Linked DNA regions of Homo sapiens. The protein of the gene in region 2 purifies or fractionates together with the protein of the main gene of each other region. This does not show direct contact. Each region holds a gene or a part of one and is shown on either strand. Other genes may lie near its edges.

Region 1 (10,840 bases), on a different chromosome or scaffold from region 2:
TATTTATTTTGAATACAATGAAAATGGCAGGTGGTCTTACTAGATGCAAAACACGTTTACATTTCATTAATGCTGTCAGAGTTCAATGAGAAAAAATGTATAAAATTTTTAAAAAAATCATTAAGGTTACACTGAAAATAGTTTTGTTACATATTTTTTTTAAAATGCAACAGTTTAAAATTGGATTAGTACTGATTGATGACGCCAAACAAAAACAGATGCCCTAGAAAACACAAAGGATACAAGAAACACCAATACACGTATATTAGCTTATGTGTTAACATCCATTCTCTAAGGCAGCAGTTGGGTTTATCAGGGAGAAACAAGCATGTAGTCAGCTACAGAATTCTGCTTGGAGAACTTCTAGTACACCCACCTCATTTCACCAAGGTGAAATAGGCTTCAAGGCACATAAAGTGACTTGCTCATGGAGTGACTAGGAACCTAGGTCTCCTGACCACCAAAGGCAGTGCTTGTTCTACCATGGTACACTTAGTATGGGTCTTACTTAAAAGATGATCTCTATTAATGAGGTACTCAAAATAGATAAGAAACCTCAGAATCTAGAAACATAGTTAAGAAAAAGAAGAGACACAAAGATGTAAAGATTGGGCTACATTTAAGGAAAACCTGAAAGTCTGGTTTCACTGATTTGCAGAATGACAATAAATTAGCTCATGCAAATTATATGCCATAATATATATTAACCTTCATCTATGAAAATGTTAGATTTTCTATAAATTAGTTTTATAGTAATGGGCTTAAAATGAACAATGCATAAATCACTGTCACATTTAAAAAATAATGACATGCATTTGCAAGTAAGCTGCCTATAGTAAATATGAGGTATATCTCTTATTTCAGGCACTTTATTTCATATATACACTGTTAAAGCTATTCAATTCAAATCTAAAACATCATTTTGTGACCCCTTTTTCCAGGTAACATTATTTTTATAAAAACATTCTCTAAGGTCAGTTTTTCCTATGCTGCATATTGGATTAAATTACAGAACAAAATGACAATGTATTTTTTTTTTTTTTTTTGAGATGAAGTCTCGCTCTTCTCTCCCTGGCTAGAGTGCAATGGCGCGATCTTGGCTCACTGCAACCTCTGCCTCCTGGGTTCAAGCGATTCTCCTGCCTCAGCCTCCCAAGTAGCTGGGATTACAGGCGCCTGCCACCATGCCCAGCTAATTTTTATACTTTTAGTAGAGACGGGGTTTCACCATGTTGGCCAGGCTGGTCTCTAACTCCTTACCTCAGGTGATCCACCCGCCTCGGCCTCCCAAAGTGCTGGGATTACAGGCGTGAGCCACCGCACCCGGCCATGTATTTTTTACATTGTTGTAAAAAATTTTTTTCTGAAAATGTAAAAATAGGTTATAGAGTAAAAGATACAGATATTAGCATCCTAACCAGTTATAAATACATCATTTTTAAAAACCGCTACAAAACTTCTAAAAAACAAGTTAAAAAAACACATAAAAAGTTAGGATAGTATTTTATAGTACAGGCATAATCATAATGAACAAGTGACATACTGGAACTAATACGACATTAAAAAAACTTATCTTTGAATGCCCTCTCTTTACTCACCACATTAACCATTTAGAATCAAGTAATGAAACTGTTAAAGAAAATACACACTAGAAATTAAAAAAAAAAATCACTTTAGGTTTAAACAAAAACTGATGAAATTTTTACCTGGCCCCAGAGTAATGTTCCCATTCCTAGGAATATTGACCATAGCCACTGTTCTATTGAAAGTTCTGAACAACTGAAAGGTTTTCCACCAAACTGCACAATTATTATCTGGAGGAATAATCAAGAGTAAATTTACTTAAATCTTAAATTTTAAAATTCATATACTTAAAAAAATATCAAATTTATGTCCTCTAAAACAAGGTGAACAACCACTATTCTGATGAATTGTATTATATTAGTCACAACTGAAAATAAGACAACTGAAATAGACCTTTCCTCTTTCCCCTCCAGTCCACTTTGCCTCTTAGAAAAAAAGACAACTGAAATAAAGTAAAATCTCTGCCCAATATTTTTGATGCATGCGTATTTCATGTTTAAATTACGCTTACTAAAAAGTAAAATTCTTATGACCAAGAATAATAATTTTATACTGTTTCCAATATAACCCCAAGCAACTACATTCCCCTGTATTTAGTACAACTCTTCAAATAATCTGTGCCTTTCTCAAAATATAGTACTCTTTTGTAGAAAAGACTGTATGTTACTGGAAAAATGCACAATATTAAAAAAATTCCACATAGCTGTTTATTTCTAGTTAACATTTAGACATACTAAGATAAACACAGACTATATGAGAAGAAAGGCAACTTGGAAAGTTCTATGAAATATGGGCTAACTCAGGTGAGGTGATCTCAGATTTGCTCTCCTTTATGAAAAGAGTGAGGTCTGATGATGAATATAAATTCATAATACAGTGCTTATGTTTTGCTTGTTATTCTAAAAGGCCTAAAATAGTGTGCATGGAAATATTAAGAATTAACTGGGGTTGGGTGTGGTGACTCATACCTGTAATTCTAGCACTTTTGGAGGCTGAGGTGAGAGGACTGCTTGAGCCCAGGAGTTCAAGACCAGCCTAGGCAACATAGCAAGACCCTGTCTTAATTAAAAAATAAATAATTTTTTAAAAAAAGAATCAATTAACAATATTCACCCTCCTGTGAGTCTGACAGGCCTCTCTTTGATATGGCAGTTAACTAGTTCCCAAATATTAAAATCAAAAATAATTTTGGTAGTTAACATTTTAAAACCTTAAAGTTACAATTCCTTTCTTTTTAGCTCTACTTTATTCAAATTCAAGTCATTTTCACTTCTCGGTTCCACTATTTTTTAAGTTAATTTGTGCACTTGTACAGATAGATTTCCAACTGCTTTGTTAGTAGCCCAATTAGATTACAACTGATTTGACAATCAGGTCTGGATTTTAGTAGAGATATAAAACTGAAGTAATTTTCTTTTATAAATCAAGAAAATAATGAGCATGAAGAATTCAATATGTATTTGTACAAGTGATCTTAATTTTTTTTAAAATTTAAACCTGATCTTTTTTTTGGTATAATGTGGGATGTAAAAAGAATACTAAAATGCTGGGAAACAATTAATTGATTGGCTGACTTTGTTTCCTAAGAAATAATATCTTTCACTTTACAGTTGGAAGAAATAAAACTGTTTGTCTAGTTGGTTGTGGCATTTACTTCTAAGAACAGGAGATTCAGTTCCCATATTCTTTAACATATACCTTAAATCACCATGATATTATATATGTCACCAAGGCAACAGTTCCACACATGTTCCACACAAGTGATTGCTAGAACAAGCTGTTTACCTAATGTCTCCCATTTAACAGGCAAATTTGAAACTATCTTTTCCAATTACCCACCTGTACCACAAAAGTGCCTAAAACAATTGTGCAGAAGATGGCATTGTTAAAGATTCCTTCGAATACATTTCTTTCACCATGAATTTTCCGGGCATTTATTTCGTTGAAAAGTTGCATCAGCACAAAGGTATTAAAAACAATAGTATAATGTTCTGAAGGAGGAGCATGCAAAGGAGCATTTCTTCCACTATCAATGTCAAAAAACTTTTCTCCTGAAAGAATGAAAAATGACTATTTTGTAATTATCATACCAAATTAGATTTCAAGGAGGTATACAAATTACAACTTAGCTAGACCTTTTATTTGATCTGAAATGGCAGCATGGAAGGAGCTAGAGAAACCTGGGATTATCTAGTACAACTCTCTTGTTTTATAGGCAAGGAAACAGAAGCTCCCAAAACTATGGTGATAATCTCAGGATCACATATCTAAATTAGTGGAGAGCCAGGGTAAGACATCAGGACTGTTTATTCTCCTGTTTATTCTACTATCTAGCTTATTGTCCTCCCAAATTTACTAAGCACTCACTGATTAAGAAGAAATTAAAGATAAATGGGAAGTCAGGAGTAGAATTTAGGCTCTTGAAAATTTGTAACATTATAACATCTTGGATGATTAGCTTGGAAAAGAAACAATTAACTGAAGCTTTATTAGACACTGAATTCTTACCAGCAAATAAGAGTGTAAAGACTACTACAAGTTGATAGAATGCATGACCCAAAATATTCTTCATCATTGTACGTGAGATGAGAGGCTTATTTCTACCATAAGGTTTCCGAAGCAAGAGAGACTCAGTGGGTGGTTCCGTTGCCAGAGCCAGGGAAGCGAGTGTATCCATTATGAGGTTTACCCACAGCATCTGCACAGCCTTAAGCGGTGAGTCCTAGAAAAGATATGTTTCCTAATAGACATTCACAACTACTCAGGGGCTCAGCAATTCTCAGGAAACCTTTAGGGTTTAAAAACTTGAGAAACAGAACAGGATTATATTTTTATATTAACTAACCTAAAATATTAAGCTTCAGCTTAAATATTAAGTATTTTTTAAGAGGCATTTAATATACTTTTTAAATTTAAAGTAAACAAGTTTTGATAGACAAGTCATCACCTACTTGAGTAATGCAGGCGCCCGTAAAAGCAACAATCACTGCTACTACATTAACAGTAAGTTGGAACTGAAGGAATTTTGAGATGCTGTCATAGACATTTCGTCCCCACATAACTGCTTTAACAATGCTTGTAAAGTTGTCATCTGTGAGAATAATATCGGATGCTTCTTTAGCTACATCAGTTCCAGCAATACCCTGTTAAAAAAAATTTTGTGAATTAGACTAAATGTTTTAAGTATAACTTTCAAATAGTCAAAAAATACACACTTAATAAACAAAAAGTTTACCATTATACCTAATAAATATTACTTAAATTTACACTAAAAGAAGGTAACAGAGTTATTCTAAGATATTACTAGGAAAGACATTCTGGTTTAGCAGAAATCAAACAAAGAATGAAGTATTAAAAATAAGGTTCAAGTTGGGTTAAAAATGGAGGAATGAACAAAGACATTACCCAAGTTCCTTCCAAAAGCCACACAAAAAGGTATCTGTTAATAAAAAGCAAACAAACTCTATGAAGACAAAGTTAGAGGAAAAGGAGATTCTACCAAAAAACAAACAAACAAACAAAAAACCCATAAAACCTTAGAGGCTAGAAAGCAGACAGCCAAATGGTAAGTAACTCAGCAGACACAAGAAAGCTGAATCCTAATCCAAGTGTAGAGAAAGTAGAAGTAGCCCCCTTTCCCCCCAACAACAGAACCCCCCTGTCAGCTCCAGACTTGGCAGATTTACGTGGCACTGGAAGTAGGGGTGAAGGTAGGAATAAAAAAAGGAAGATCTCTTGAAAGTCTACTGAAGACGCATTTAGAAGCTTCAAACTAATAACAATGTCATCAACAGGAGAATGGGGTAATTAATAAATTGTGGATTAATAAAATGAGTGAACTACAACTATATTAACATAAATGATCTGACAAACATAATGCTGAATAAAGAAGATGAACTCAACACATAATGTATGACTCTTCTGTACAAAGTTCAAAAACAGGCAAAAGGAATAATCTTCAGGATACTGGTTATCTTTGCAGAGAGACAAGGCAGTAATTAGAAGGGAGTAGGATTCACTAAAAAATTATCAAAAAGCTTAACCTCACGAACCTTGCCACGAGCTGAAAGTGTTCCCCAAATTCATGTGTTGGAAACATAATCTCTAATCAACCAAGTGCAGACATGGAAACTCAGAGGTGATATGATGAAGGCTCTGCCCTCATGTATGGATTAATATCATTATTTTGGGAGTGGTTTCATTATCAAGAGTGACATCATTATAAAGGTGAGTTTGACCCCCTCTTGCTTTTGTGCTCACTTGCGGTGTTCTCTTGCCCTTCTCCCATGACATGACACAGCATGAAGGTCCTCACCAGATGCTGGCACCCTGGCTCTTGGATTTACTCACTTCCAGAACCTCAAGTCAAATAAACTTTTATTGTTCATGAATTATTAAGTCTTAGATATTCTGTTATCACAATACAAAATGGACAAAGACAAACCCTTTCTCAGGAAGCAGCTGGAGAAGATGACTCCACCAGATAAGGGAATAAACCAAAGAAGATGATGCCACTGAATTCATGAAGTACAAGATCCAACACAAAGGAGAATAAAGAAAATCCTCAGGTATGGAGACCAAGAAGACAGCTGTGCAGCAAGGCTAGCAAACAGCGAGTGCAGATTAAAGCATGTTGAAAGATGCTGAGAGACGTATCTCTTAGACACTAAAATTGGTAAGAGTGCTAAAGGTCTCTGATGTATGAAACAGAGAATTTGGGGATGAATTAGTTAAGTACATAGAAAAACTAAGCCAAAAAAATTCAAACAAACCAAATAAAAATTAAAAGAAAGCAAGTAAAAGACAACAAATTATAGGGAACATAAAAAGCTGTGTAAGGAAGGAAAAGTAATTACAGTAGACCACACAGATCAGGTTGAAACAGCATTTACAGTCACAGTAAGTCACAGTAAGGACTGAATATTGATCAAATCTAAATTATGATATAACTCTGCTGGCAGATGATGGGATAGGTAGTGAGCATGAAGGTATATGCGGTGAATGTGGTCTATATGCTTGTGAAAGCACTAAGTCCTCACCTTCATTAATGAAAGTCAGTAGTTAAAGCCTTATATTAAAAAAATCAAAAAGCACCAGAATTATGTGATTCAGAGATATAAAGGTACATAACTAAGTAAAAGAAGCAGCTAAAACAGTTTCCTTTGGGAGCCAAAAATTTGGTATGTGGCAGGGAACTTGCTATTAAGTCTTATAGAACTACTTGACCTTTTAAATGCTACGCATACATTGTTTTGATAAACATGAAGTTCAGATGAAACCTTTCTCAAAATACTCAATGAAGAAACAATCTTATTTTAGAATCTTAGTCTCCAGCTCCCAATGTGAATATTTTACTTTTAATGTCCCACTTTTTTTTTTTTTTTTTTTGAGATAGAGTCTCGCTCTGTTGCCCAGGCTGGAGTGCAGTGGTGCGATCTCAGCTCACTGCAAGCTCTGCCTTCCGGGTTCACGCCATTCTCCTGCCTCAGCCTCCGGAGTAGCTAAGATTACAGTCACACATCACCACACCCACTATTTTGTATTTTTAGTAGAGACAGGATTTTAATATACCATGTTGGCGAGACTGGTCTTGAATTCCTGACCTCAAGAGATCCACCCGCCTCGGCCTCCCAAAGTGCTGGGATTACAGGTGTGAGCCACCATGCCTGGCCAATGTCCCATATATTTAACACACTTAAACTCAATGGGATTTCTTGATTCTCATCATACCCATATTATACAAATGCAAATCTCACCATTCCCTTGCTCAAAATCCTTAACATTTCTAAAAGTAACTCTATGGTGTTAATTGGTATTCAAATAAAAACTAGTTCTATGATGAAACAAGTCTGGAAAACTTTCAATCACAAAACGTTAAACTGCTTTTTAAAAATGAGCTTCTAGGAGTCATATGATATCGCATAGTGTGTCTCTAAACTTACATCATCAGAAGTAGGCTTGGCAAATGTTCATCTACAGGATAAGAGAAAAAAAATTCCTTATCATGGCATTCAAGGCCTTTTTAATGTGGCCCCCTGTGAATTCTTCTAGCTTCGTATCTCATTACAGCACCGCAACCTCTTCTAGTTAGATTGAAAAACTTGTACATAATTCGCTGATGAATGAGGGCCTCTTGGTTCCTCTCCTTCCCTCAGCTAAACTGGCACCTCTTCCAGAAAACCCTTCCCAGTCTCTACAGGCAGAGTCAAGGACTTCTGCCTGAGACACTTGTCACTGTCCTGTAATTATTTCCATGTGCTGTGAATTTTTAGGAGACAGCAACTCTTCACTTCTAATGTTCCGGGACTGGAATACTGAACACAGTCTCAATATTTGGAGTCCCGCATTAATCCAAATAAAATTTAAATAAAAGTATTTTAATTACCTTAGGTTTTACTACCATAGATGTATTTGATTATTGGATTACACCATGAGATTCAGTCTTTGATGACAGCAGTATCTCTATACATGGTTAACTAATTTTTGGCAAGAATAATTTCATGTGACAAGGATTCTCTCCTTCGACCAAAACTTGCTATGTAGATAATTGTTACACTATATTATTTAGGGAATCATGACAAGAAAAAGTCTGCACATGTTCACTACAGATGCAACCATCCATATTTTTTGTCCCGAATATTTGCGATCCACAGTTGGTTGATTCTGCGGATGCAGAATCCATGGATACAAAGGGCCAAATGTACAAGCAGAACACACACTTTATCTATAGATCAACAAATCAAGAAAGTATGCTCTAAAATGCTATATCTGCCTGAAAATAGGAGATACATTTAGAAAGAAATTATCAACAGCGATTTCTTGTAACTAAAAAAAAAACTCTAAGACAATACGTTTGTCTAAGTTTTAACTGTACAAATGCAAAACCAAAGTAAATTCAAGCTTTAACAAGAGTAGTTTCAAGTCCAAGCTACCAAGCACTTACAGTTTCTCTATGTTTTTAAACTAAATTAATTTATTTATTTCAGACAGAGTCTCGCTCTGTCACCTAGGCTGGAGTGCAGTGGTGCCATCTTGGCTCACTGCAGCCTGCGCCTCCTGGGTTCAAGTGATTCTCATGCCTCAGACTTCCAAGTAGTTGGGATTACAGGCGCGACCACCACATCCAGCTAATTTTTGTATGTTTTTTTTTAAAGTAGAGATGGGGTTTTGCCATGTTGGCCAGGCTGTTCTTGAACACCTGACCTTATGTGATCCGCCCGCCTCAGCCTCCCAAAGTGCTGGGATTACAGGCGTGAGCCATCATGGCCAGCCTGTTTTTGAACTAAATTTAGACTTTTGATGTTATCATTTAAAAAAAAAAAAAGTGGTATAACTGGGCCTAAAACCATGAAGAGCTTAAAAAACACTAACCAACAAGCCATTGTATTGTGTATTTGTTTGATTATATTTACCTGTATTTATTTAAAGCCCATTGTATCTGTCTTACATTCAAGTTTTGGGAAGAAAGCTTTTTTTATTTTAAAATTCATTTTACATAACTGCCTTTCTGGTCAGCTGTCAGAATGTAAATAGCAATAAGAATCCTGCTAAATGCTCAAGAGCAGCAGTGAGTGATCCTATGTTCCTAAAGGGAATGAGCCTGTTTGCCTACAGCAAAAGGAAGAGCACTTAATTATTCCATAGACCTCTTCAGCTATGCTTCACATGTCTTCAGAAGCTCCTACCAATGCAGCTGCCAACCATTTAAATTTGGGATGGGGTAGGGCGGGGGATCTTTGGATTCCCTGCTTTTGATTGAGGGAAATTTACCCATAATTTCCTTTCCTCATCTCTCTCACTCCTGTTGAAAGGCTGCCACCATGGTAGATCTTCTAAATTTCCATTTTAGCAGCAAAATATCAGGGGGACAAATTATGCAAATAAACATTTGTACACAAAAACAATCTCTCATCTGAAAACCTTAGGGCCAGACTGTGATTCGGAATTCAGTCTCTCATAGTTTGGAAAGATAATGAGACACATAACCTTATATCTCAATTTTCCCAAAAGAGCTTAGCACCCCATAAAAATCACATTAAAATCTCCACAATGGCTATGAATATTCACACTAAGTAGGACAAATAACAGCCTCACATCAGTTCAGAACAAATTTTGCAATCAAATGAGTCTGCTGCAAAATTTAGGTTAAAAATTTCAGTTTCCTGATAGTTCTAGATTTGAGAATTGTGATTATGAACCAGTATTTTCCAAAAATAAAATGAAACTCAAAGAAAATAAAATACTTAAATTGAGGACTTTGGGGAAAACAAGTAGGTAGGATTTTTTTCAATAAAAAAAGATTATATATAAAATGATGGTATTCAATTACTTTTTAAATAACTGAAGAGTAACTGAGTAGATGAATGGAAGAGTTTCAATTATATTTTTAATTTAAATACACACAACTATTCTAAGCCTGTGTCCTGCATTAAAGGGTTATTAAAAGGTTCAGTTGAGTTGACAGACATTAAAAAATTAACAGAATACAAAGCCAACATACAATATTATTAAATTGCTCAAAAGAAACAATCTAGTCAGATTTCATGACATCAAATAAAGCTAATGCATAAACTAATTAGACTTATAAACCAATTTAAGCTTATTAATTATCCCTCGAACTAATCTTGAGGGACAGTGTTTAAAATCCATAGTAATTTAGTCAACAAACAAACAAACAAACAAACAAACCAGTCAGTAAATTACGTTTGGATATTTGAATGAGTAAATTCTTACCATTGCAAATCCAACATCTGCTTTCTTTAGTGCTGGGCCATCATTTGTACCATCACCAGTTACAGCTACAACCTGGCGTTGGTCTGAGACAGTGCTGTCAATTATACCTTAAATACAAGCAAATATTTGTGTTATAAAAACATTACTCTTTAATAAGATGATTCTGAAGAATATCCTGACGTCGGTTTTATAGACTCAAGGTTAAAAATAAATAAACAAATATAAAAATGGAAATTGCTTAGATGTTGGGTGAGAACCTACTTCAGAAACTATGGGTATATTCAGAGCAATATCCTGTTTTAAACACTTAAGATAATCACTTAACAACACAATTTACCTAAGGTATCAAAGGAAATGTATTTAGATTTTATTAAAACAGATGATATCCATGACTCAATCTAATATTCAGTATCTATTACTATTCTGGGAAGCAGAACACATTTCTGTATTAAGAAATTGTGAAATAACTGAAAAATCTACTTACCTTTAACCAGTGTATGCTTATCAGTAGGAGATGATCTTG
Region 2 (10,840 bases):
TACTTTCATGCTGCACCATTCACCTGAACACATTTCCTCCTGCCCAAGTCTACTTCTGCTCAACTATGGTTTTATACTTTCCTGACCCCACCCTGGCAACTAATCATGAATCTAGGTTACTTCCTTTGCTTCATCAGGCTTACTGGTATTAATCTCACATGGTTTCTAGAATCATGAAAGTTTAGTGGAAGAGACCCAGGCTCTTTCTCTAGTAATGACATTTCCTGAGCCCAGTGGAACGTTTTCCTGTGTACTGGGCATCTCTGCTACATTTACTGCCCTCCCTTGATACCAAGTATGTCTTCTCCTTACCCTCTTGCTATAAAGCCCACCCCTGAATTTCCAGGAGATGAGAAGTGCCAAGGTTCATGGGCTGTGAATTGTTTTCCCAGGTCCAGCTCCAAACTTAATGTTCAAAGAGGCTAAACCGTGGATCCATCAATGTGGATCAGAGTCCCTGATAGGTTATCTTGCAGAATTCTAGGTGAATATGGTAGCTGTATTAGATCTGATATAAGGCACCAAACGGGGCATAAAACAGCATGCTTAGGGTAGTGTCCAGGATTCATATATCCAACCTTCACCCATATAACCAAATTCTAATGCCCATTATTGACCATGGATCCATACACACCTAGATCAGAGACCAGGGTGATATCAAGAACATCTGGCTCTCTTCCCACTAGAATGCCCTCAAGAGAGTAAATATGCTTACCGAGTGCAATACGTAAGAGGCTAAAAGAACCATGCTGAGTACACAGTGCATGGGAAACACACATAAATCAGGCCCATTCCCCAGGTCAGAGCCAAGCATAATACCCATATAAGATCAGAGCTAGGGCCAGAACTGGAAAGGTGGTAACACCTGCGCATGAAAGGACTGGTGATCCTTGGCAGCCCTATATGGGAAGATCAGCTAGGAAGTGAAAGCTGGCCAACAGCACAATTCTGTGCTAGCAGGAGGGGGCCGAATGGAGTTTGCATTCTGATAGGCATGTTCCTACGGTTCCTGGTGAGGCTGCTCGGGAGTAAGGACTCTGGTATACGCCTCATTTTGAAGAGGAGAGTGAATACTCAATTCTACAGTCTTAACCACAGTTCAATACTTAATGTTTTCATCCTTCTTAATAGTCTATAAGCCCTTCTATGGCACTCATTTGCAAGAGGGACTGGGCAAGTGAGGAAAACAGGCTCAGGTGCATTAGGTGATTTGTCCAGCTGAAAAGTGATAAAACCACACTAGACCTTCAGATCCCAATCCAGTGCTTTACCCACTCTTCCAAGATGGATTATGTGGGTAGGAGAAGCTAGAGTCCAGAAGAAACAAAAGCCTAAGCTGAGCCATTGGAGGCTAACAGGCCTTAGAGGGTAAATAAGAGAAGGTAAGGACAGGGGGGAAATGCAGAGGAAGGACTCTACTGGCAAACATGGGAGCTAGTGGTAAGACTGATCTGAGTATCCCATTTGTGTTGGGATGTAGAAATCAGGTCGGAGAAGTGGGAGTAGGGCCAGATGAAAATTTGATGTGATATGGTGTGTAATAAGGCATCACTGTGGTTTCATGAGAACTAGAGTAACAGTGAAAACAGGGCTTTAGGAACATTAAGCTGGCACTGAGACAGGAATCAGAGTGGAAGAAAGAGTCTTGAAGCAGGTAACCAGTAAACTGTTGTGGTAATTCAGGTGTAAGGTGCTAAGTCTTGGGCTAAGATGGTGGCAGTGGAAATGGTGAGGAAAGAATAAATCCACAAGACAATAAGAAGACAATAAGAAGAAAGACTCTTCAGGATTTAGTAACGGATTAGCTACAGGAACAAAAAGTACAGAGTTCAAAGCTACTTTAAGTTCTCAGGATCTAGAAGAATGAAGGTCTCACTAACACAGAAGACTAATGCCTTTATTTTGGAGAGATAAACAGATTACACTGTTCATCTGACCCTCTTGATAGTACAAGTGGGTCAGACAGTTTAAACTTTGAGATTATATCCCAGCTGAATGGCTAGAGGTCAATCTCCTACAGAAAATATATTTTGAAGCATAGGGTTGAAAGGGAAATAAGTTATATATTTGCTATAATCATAACAACCAACATATAGCTTTCTTTCATATTATTTTATTAGTACTTATAAAAACAATTTATGAAAATATTTTCCTTTTCAAGATATAGAAACTACGCTCTGCAAAATATACATACCCATAGTTGTTACAATACATATCCTTGTATACACCTTGGACATTGTGTTTAAGAATCACACCCTGTAAGGGCTAGAAGAAACATTTTCTCTAACCTCAGTTATATAGTGTGACATTCAAGTACTTAAACTACATTGTTCAAACAAAACATGTCTCTAGTGTATGGGCCTAAAGGGATTTAACTTTCTAGGTGCCACTGATTCTTTCACTGTGCAAGGTAAAGAACTGGAAGAGGGTTCCCTGAGAGTTAATTCACCTTAGGTAGCTCAAGTAGTGGTTTACTGTCCATACTTTATCATGGAACTAAGGAAGGGAGGAAGGCCATGGAAATTCAACTTGGGCAGGTCTCCTCTCTATCATCCCTATCTACGAAGCATGGCCCCTATGTGATGATTTCTGAGACCTCTAGAGTTCTCAAATGCTCCTGATTCTGTAATTATCTAAGATATTTGCAGAATGATGTTTTTGCAAGTCTAAATTCCAATACTGTAAATCAGGTGGAACAGAGATGACTCACCTACATAGACTTCATTTAGGGTTTGTCAGGTGTCAAGGCAATTGATAAAATCAGCAAGCCAAAAATTCCCCCATTGGAACTATTGGAAAAGATTCTTTCTCACTAAGGCACGAACCCCAGAAGCCAAGTTCCTCTTTGCTTTGGAAAAATTATGATGAGAGGGTAGGAAAGAGCCTATAACCTTTCAACTCTGCAGGCTTAAGATAATGACAGATGCTTCATCTGACACAGTAAGAGCTGGAAGCTATTGCAACCTCACCAATAAAGGGCTCATTACAACAAGTAACCATTTATGTATACTCCCTAAGTCCTGACTAACCTCCCAAGCTTTTCTAGATATTAAATTCTCTCTAACTGCAAAGTATTGGTCTGATGAAGTTCCAGGTGTAAAACGTGCTGTTTGAATTCATGGCGTTAGTGTCATGGTGCTGCATCATGGTATGGCACTGACATTTAACATCATGCTGATAAACTAGAATTCATAGTGATTTTATTTCAATGCAGGAAACTATGAAAGTCAATCAAACATGGATTCACAAGTCTTTACATTTAATGTATAACATAAAGCATTATTACACATAATTTCATAACTATAAAAATAAGTTTAATACATTACCATATTTTAAAAAATTACTTTAAAAACATATACTCCAAAGTCTTCTATTTCATTTAGAGAATAATGGAGGTATCTATTAGGGTGAATCATATGAAACGATGGTTTTTCTAAGTTAAAATAGTAAAATCTTGGCAATTACATATGGTTCAACCTAATAAGATCCTGAGAAAATTTTATTTGGCATCACACTATAAATTCAAGGGGAATTTATAGAAAATCACATTTCTAGTGAAGAGAAAACACTTCAGGATGGAAACGTGCACACTGGTCATGCCAAGATTTCTCTTTGTGATTTAGAGATCTGAAATCTTGGAATGTTAAGAAAAATTTAGTGCAGTTTCAAAAAAAAGTGAGGACAATTAAAATTATAGTATGCTAGCTGCAGTTGCTAATGCCACTGAAACAAAACTACTAGCCAAATTTGGCAATTTAAGTGTTTTAGAGGTGACATAATAAAAATTCCAGCATTAAAATGAAAAGGCACAAATATGAGTTACAAGTATGATAATCATTTATAAAATCCTTGAAAATAAGGCCAATTCATTTGTATTATTAACACCATTAAGCAGGCACCTATTCTAAGCTTCAACTTCATCCTCCTAAATAGAATAAGGTTGCAAATGAATTATCAACATAATACTAATTATAGCAGCATTATCAATTGTCTGGAAGGCATAGTTTATAAAGATCATGGTAGTAGAACCAAGTTTCTTAGGCTCTACACTGCTAAAAGAATATCTAAAATAGCCTCCCCACCCATATCCCATCAGTACCAAAAATACATTTTAAAAATTACATAAATATTACTAGCCATAAAATGTTTTGGTTTTTCTTCAAACAATGAGCTCTCCTCTCACCAACTTGACCCCAACAACAACAACAAAAAAAACCAAAACCAAAACCAAAGCTACCAAAAAATTGTTACACCAAACAGACTAGCTATTCTTAACTAAAGACATACTATATTCAAAAATGGTACTTTAGGCAATTTATTAAATACAACCAATGAAGAAAATGCAGATTTTCCAGATGTGTGCGTATGCTGTATGTGAATTAGGTGATGGTGTACTTGAAAAAAATATGTATTTCAGCAATGATGCTTCATTTGGAACTTTGGTACCATTTACGAATGGCCGCTCCAACATTACTGGCTACTACGCAGAGAGCACCACCCACTGTCCACCACGTTGGCACATTATTAAAGAAAATAATCTGAAAGATAAAAGCAAAGACCACATCCATTGTCTTCATTATTGCTACTGGCCCTGCTTTTTCTATTTGAAGTGCTTTTGTGATAAATATCTGACCCCCCAAACCAAAGAGCCCAATGAATATGAGAAATAGCCTGTCCAACCCACAGTAAGGCAGACTCCACTCTCCTAATACAGAGAGGATGATGACACTTTCAACGAGGCCAAGTACTACATAATACCAAATGCTCAGAAAGTAGTCCACAGATTTTCCCATTTTTCTTAGGATAACTAGAGTCGATGCAGCAAATACGGCACTTCCAATTGCTGCGAATGTTCCCTTAAGGTGGCCTGAATAGCTTTCTTCCATCCCCGAAGTGTCGGAACCAAACAAAAATGGTGGTCTCACGATAAGGATCACTCCAGTGATTGTGAACACGGTGAAAAGAGCATCCCAAGGGCTATATTTTTCCTTGAGACATATCCAAGCAAATATGGACGTAAACACTGGACTGCTAAACGTGATAACTGTGGCATCAGCGAGGGACATTGTCTGGTAAGCATAGTATATAAGCATCATGGCGGTAGAACCAAGGACTCCTCTGAGAATGAGGAAAATTCGTTGACCTTTTGGGCCTATAAACCCAGTTCTGTAAATTCAAATGAAGAAATGCATATTAAATGAAATTAATATTTGTTTTTAAATTACAATTTGTAATTAAACATTATTTTAAAAGTACTAAATATCAAAAAATGAGGGAATAGTAAATTAATTATAATATCCACAAATGAATATTATATACTTTTTAAAAATAGTATTTTCTAAGTATAGTTAATGACAGTAAAGTGTTCACAGTAAAAGCAAAACCAGTGCAAGTGAATTACATGCATAGTAAAATTATAATTCAATTAATATAGATATTTATCCCACGTATATGTATATATATGCTTGCAAAAAGGACAAAAAGGAAAATAAACTAAATGTTAATCATGTTTATATCTTAATAGATAAACTCATAGGTAATTTTCTTTCTTTATATTTATTTTCTCCAAATTTTCTATAAACATATCACTTTTATGATAAATACAATGTCAAGATTCAGCTGCCCTGTGTAAGGAAACTTAGACCCAGCTAATGCTCATTCTCAATCTCATGAATTTTTCTATAAAACTTGAAACTGCTAAAATTTATTTTAGTCATTGAATATGAGACAAGTTTTCATTGTTCTCATGAGGAAAGAGTCAAAACACACTGAAAAAGAACATGTAGTGTTTGGAAAAGTATGATTACTGCTATTCAAATTCTTTTTCAATAAATATTTACTAAGTACCCACTCTGTGTAGGTTCCTGGCTAGGTGCAACTTGCTGACGTGTGCCAGGGCTAGACTTCATTAGATTATCATCTAGGCTACCCCGGGTATCTTGGAGTTAAAATGAAAGCACGGTCACATTTGGCCCATACTTTGAGAAGCAAAGAGTCTTCCATGATAATAAAACATAAAATGGGTCAAAACAGATGAGGACCAAGGATTTTAACAACATTCTTCCAGTGTCCTTCCCCTGACAATATCTTTATTTCAAAATGGGGGAGATGATTATGTTAGCATCGGTGTTCTGCTGCTACCCTTAGAAATTTCTAAAGCCCTACCATCATTTCTTAAAATAGTGTGACTTGTCCGCATTGACAGAAATTTGCAGGTATTAGCAGGTTTTCACTTTTCCCACCAAATCATCAGGATATGGAGTGAAACTATTCTAAGTGAATCCGCACCATGTTAGAGATACAAGGAGACTTTGGTGACAAGTGACTAAAGCTTTTCATTTGGGGTGTAGCCTTTTTTGCCCAAAGAGACAAAGAGCCAGGCAGCCACCAAGGACCCAACTGGTCTCGCTCTCAGGGTTCTAAATACACTGAGGTATATGGAGGTTACAATGGTTGAAGGAGGCATAATTTTAACCCAGGGAGGGTAGGGAGTTCAACAGGGAAGGAAAAGAGGAATTGGGTTGGGAGAGAACAGAGAGGGCGGAATAGAGACAATTTTCATATACTGTTACACTCTACACAAGGCACTCCACCCTATAATAAATCTTATTTGACCCTTGGAATCACCTTGTAGGGCAGAAGTCACACAGTATCATTCCCTCTAGTTTACAAAAGAGGAAACTAAATACGAAAGTAACCTTGCTCAGGGTTACCCCATCACCTTTTGAGGAATACCTAAATATTATTACTATAATCTTCTATTTGCCCTGGTAAGAAAGCAGCCCATTCTAAAAAAACTTCTGATACTAGGATACACTATTACTTCTTTTCATTCATTTTTTTAACTTCCAAACAGTAGTTATGCCAAAGGAAAGAAGGGAGGGTGATACAAGACAAGAGGAATTATACAAAGAAAGCTCTGTTTTCAAAAGGGGAGGTGGTGAAAAACAAAATTTCTTTCTCCCCACTTTGTTGGGTATGTGGTTTATGCTCATGGTAGAATCTTCTGTGGGTAGATGCTTATGACTTTTCATTAAGCAGAGCCAAGGGGCATAGGAACTGGTAAGTATATGAGATGGATAAAGCAGATAGAGTAATTATAGGCAGGTGAAAAGATATACACACATTTATTAATATCTTCTACTTTGCAGTTAAAAAATACTTACTTTCTGTATATTAAGCAAGGGATAACAACTAGCATTTGGAACACACATCGAAACGCACTAATCTCTACAGCATGGACGTCTTGCACTTTTTTAACAAATAAAGAGCCCACTGAGAAAAGGAAGGCAGACAATAATGTGTAAAACAAGCCAAGTCCAGGACAGGGTGCTTTCTTCTTGGCTTCTGAAAAAGATTAAATTCTGGTTAGTCCTTGCTTCCAAGTGTATGTGTTATCATTTTCACTTAGAAACTGAGAAAAATGGAACAGTGTCAAAGGTCAACAGGCTTTATTACCTCCTAAGCATATCATTTCTCTGGGCCTGTACCATTTTCCCCATCAATTATGAAGAACCATAGATGAGGATAACAATTTAAACCTGCATTTTTAAAATGCCGTTTCGCCCTATCAAATGGATTTCCTATGGCTCACTGAAGAATCATCCTCACTTACAAGTCAAGAAGTAGAACGCTTGCCAAGATGGTGAGAGAAATCTTTAAGAAACACTTGTCAAGATGGCAAGTAAAAAATCCTTCCAAGTGATATCTTACGCCACACCTCACTGGCGAAATTGGCTTTATGAAGAAAGTGTTCTTTTCTGGAAAATGGGTTATAATTGGGTTATACAGTTATCTGTTGATTATTTGACTTCCTCCCACAAGTCTGTGAGCTCTTCCAGGGCTGGGATCTTGCTGTCTTGTACATGCCTGGCACATGGAAGACACTGGATAAATATTCAGTGAATGAAAGATGAGAGAACTTCAGGGAAAGACTCAAGAGTCTAACACTATCGGCAACAGCATAATCTGGGAAGGTTCTCCATTTTGTTATTTTGAACTGTTAATCAAATCTATATTTAACTTTTCATGCTTTCACGACTTATCTTCCCATTCAGAGCACAAACTCCTCAAGGGGAGGGTGTGGGTTATCTAGCCCTTTGGATCCCAAGTGCTTTGTACAGAACTGCCATCTAATCCCTACTCTTGGCTCGATCTGAACGAGGAAACCAGTGCTTTCTCCAGGGCATCAAGTATTCAGTCATTAATGACAATCTGTGTGAGCTTTAAACTTGTTTAGCCACTTACTATGTCTTAGTTTCCTACACAGGAGTAGAACCTGCTTTCAGTCTTACTCCTCTGTCATTCAGAGAGCAAAAGCAGCAGGGTGGGCAGAGAATGCCCTAAAACAAAGGTCACACACTGCGGGATATATTCTTTTTTGAAATTAACACAAAAACAGGGTTGAGGGTAAGAAGGAAACACAAGTGGCCCTCATTGATTAAGAGCACAGTGGAACTGAAGGGTGAGTGGATATGAGCAACTTGTAGGAAAACTCGTATTATCATTCCAATCTAGGACTTTATAATGTGATAGCTATAAAACAGTATTGTGTAATGTTTTTTAAAATGCCCTTCTCTGATAAATGTAAACACCAGGTAACACATTTACACATCCTCAGGTTAGTGAGATGACTTTGCAAACTGGGACCAAAGTATGCTGATGCACAGGCTTTCTGGGGCATTCTACAGCCTGGCCTTGTGGTCAAAGGCACCCTTCTCTACCTCTTCCTGTTCTAGGTGCACAGCTGAAGATACTGCTTTGGAACTAGCAGTAGTCCTTCCCTTAAGATGCCAGAATCCTCATTCTGTTCTGTATCCATGTGCTTGTATACTGCAGAAATAAACTGCACACACGCAGCCCACGAGAAGGAAGCTTTAGAAGACTTCCAAGTGAAGCACCACAAAATACATGCCTTGGCTGTGGTCAGCCTTAGGGTCTGGCCTCTGAAATTTCAGAATTCAGTTCCAAATAAAACAGTTTTTCTTAAAAGAAACTCAACCCCTACATAGAAACTCCACCCTCAAACAGAACAGACCGAGAAGATCAAGGACAGAAAACATCTCCCTGCTCTGTTTCAAGTATCTTCTCCAACATAAACTTGCTAATTTTTCCCCAGGAATATTTTAACTTAACATTAAATATTTTAACTCTTTAAAAATGTAATTGCACCCCCTTGGCCCTAGTGACCTTTCCCCTTAAAACACATACACATGTATTTTCTTGCCTATAAACACTTAAGGCTCATGCTTTCCAACTGGGAAGGGACAGACATTAGAAGGCCTCGCTGCATTTGATGATTTGTTAACGAGGGTGAGGACTGGCTCCACTCAGACAAACCTCAGTTTCTTACTAAATCATTTCAATCCTGTCAATGGAGATGAGCATGACTAGCATAACTGAAAGAGGCATTTGTTTAGGTTCCATGTTCATATCTCACTGCAAGCATATCTAATAATTTGGTAACTCAAATTATTCAAATTAGGTAAGTGGCCATGGTGTAATTTCCTCACTTAGAAGAAAACTGAAAAATTACTCAGCTTCTCTATCCTCTGCTTTCAGCTGGTGATTCGCAATCCTGGTTGGGAATTAGAATCACCTGAGTAACACTTAAAACTTTAATTCCTGGGTGCAGTGGCTCATGCCTGTAATCCCAGCACCTTGGGAGGACAAGGTGGGAGGATCTCTTGAGCTCAAAAGTTTGAGACCACCCTGGGCAACACGGGGAAACCCCCTCATCAATGCAAAAAATATTTTTAAATTAGTCGGGTGTGGTGGTGTGTGCCTGTGGTCCCAGCTACTCAGGAGACTTAGATGAAAGGATCGAGTAAGCCCAGGAGGTTGAGGTCGCCGTGAGCTGTGATCACGCCAATGCACCACAGCCTTGGTGACAGAGTAAGACCCTATCTCCAAAAAAAAAAAAAATTAATTCTCAAGCCCCATCTCAGACCCACCGAAATAGAATCTCTGTAACTCTAAAAGGCTCCACTAGTTTGAGAACCACTGCTACACTCGATCACTAACTCCCTCCAGAGGATGTGAGGCACAGGCCTAAGAAACTACTTCTCCTTGCTTCAGTGTAAGACCCACACTGTCCCTGAAGAAAGTAAGGAGATGTCTTGGGACAGCTGTATGTGTCTGTTAAGGTCATCCAAGAATGTAAGACATATGGGTAACAGTTCCAACCAGAACTTGAAAAAAGCTTTGTTGAGATAAGCAGTTAGAACAAGAGGTGTCACAAAGTTCAATGACAACAGTAAAGTGTTTTTATGTCAATTTTCTTTCCAAAATATTATCTTGTCACCTTACAATAACTAAGTCTTACTGGTAGAAACTTTCTTTGAAGTTAAACACCCACAAGATTCTTAGATACACTCACGTAAGTTTCTCATCTTGCCATGAGCTGCCTGGGAGTAGAGAATTCCTCTTCCATTCACAAAAAGGGGAAACTTTAAGAGTTTGCATGGACTGATTCGGCATGCCACCAGAAGGACATTCACCCAGAGGGTGATAGGTGAGAAACTGACCTTTTCAAAGGCTGCTTATCTGTTCAATTCAGCCTGGCATAACCCCTGTTCTAGAGGCACCAGCCCATTTATAAATGATCACAAGTCTGATCATTTCGGTTTGCCTTTAGGACAGAAATGGAGCAAGAATAGTCTTCCTAGAGTCTGTCTCTCTAACTTGGGGAAAGTGCACAAAGGGAGGAGGGGAAAGCGCAGTGAGAGGAGAGGAACAGAAATCCAGGGTCACACTTAGGGGAGGTGACCCAGAGGACAAGGTGGTGCAGGCCGTGTAACTGTCCTAAAAAGAGATCTGCCTATTCCCTTCTTCTTGCAGG

What was found.
Region 1: the proteins of SLC35G1 (region 2) and ATP2B1 purify together in Homo sapiens (co-immunoprecipitation; 2 studies listed by BioGRID and IntAct, with this or other methods). This does not show direct contact.

The regions. Positions count from the first base shown.
Region 1 is NC_000012.12:89,599,620-89,610,459, forward strand, and holds part of ATP2B1 (plasma membrane calcium-transporting ATPase 1), read right to left. Parts: coding exon 10,802-10,840; intron 10,425-10,801; coding exon 10,318-10,424; intron 4,728-10,317; coding exon 4,536-4,727; intron 4,307-4,535; coding exon 4,093-4,306; intron 3,636-4,092; coding exon 3,424-3,635; intron 1,815-3,423; coding exon 1,707-1,814; intron 1-1,706. UniProt on the Homo sapiens protein: Catalyzes the hydrolysis of ATP coupled with the transport of calcium from the cytoplasm to the extracellular space thereby maintaining intracellular calcium homeostasis.
Region 2 is NC_000010.11:93,895,078-93,905,917, reverse strand, and holds the end of SLC35G1 (solute carrier family 35 member G1), read right to left. Parts: intron 7,348-10,840; coding exon 7,167-7,347; intron 5,167-7,166; coding exon 4,428-5,166; 3' UTR 2,094-4,427; downstream 1-2,093. UniProt on the Homo sapiens protein: May play a role in intracellular calcium sensing and homeostasis. May act as a negative regulator of plasma membrane calcium-transporting ATPases preventing calcium efflux from the cell.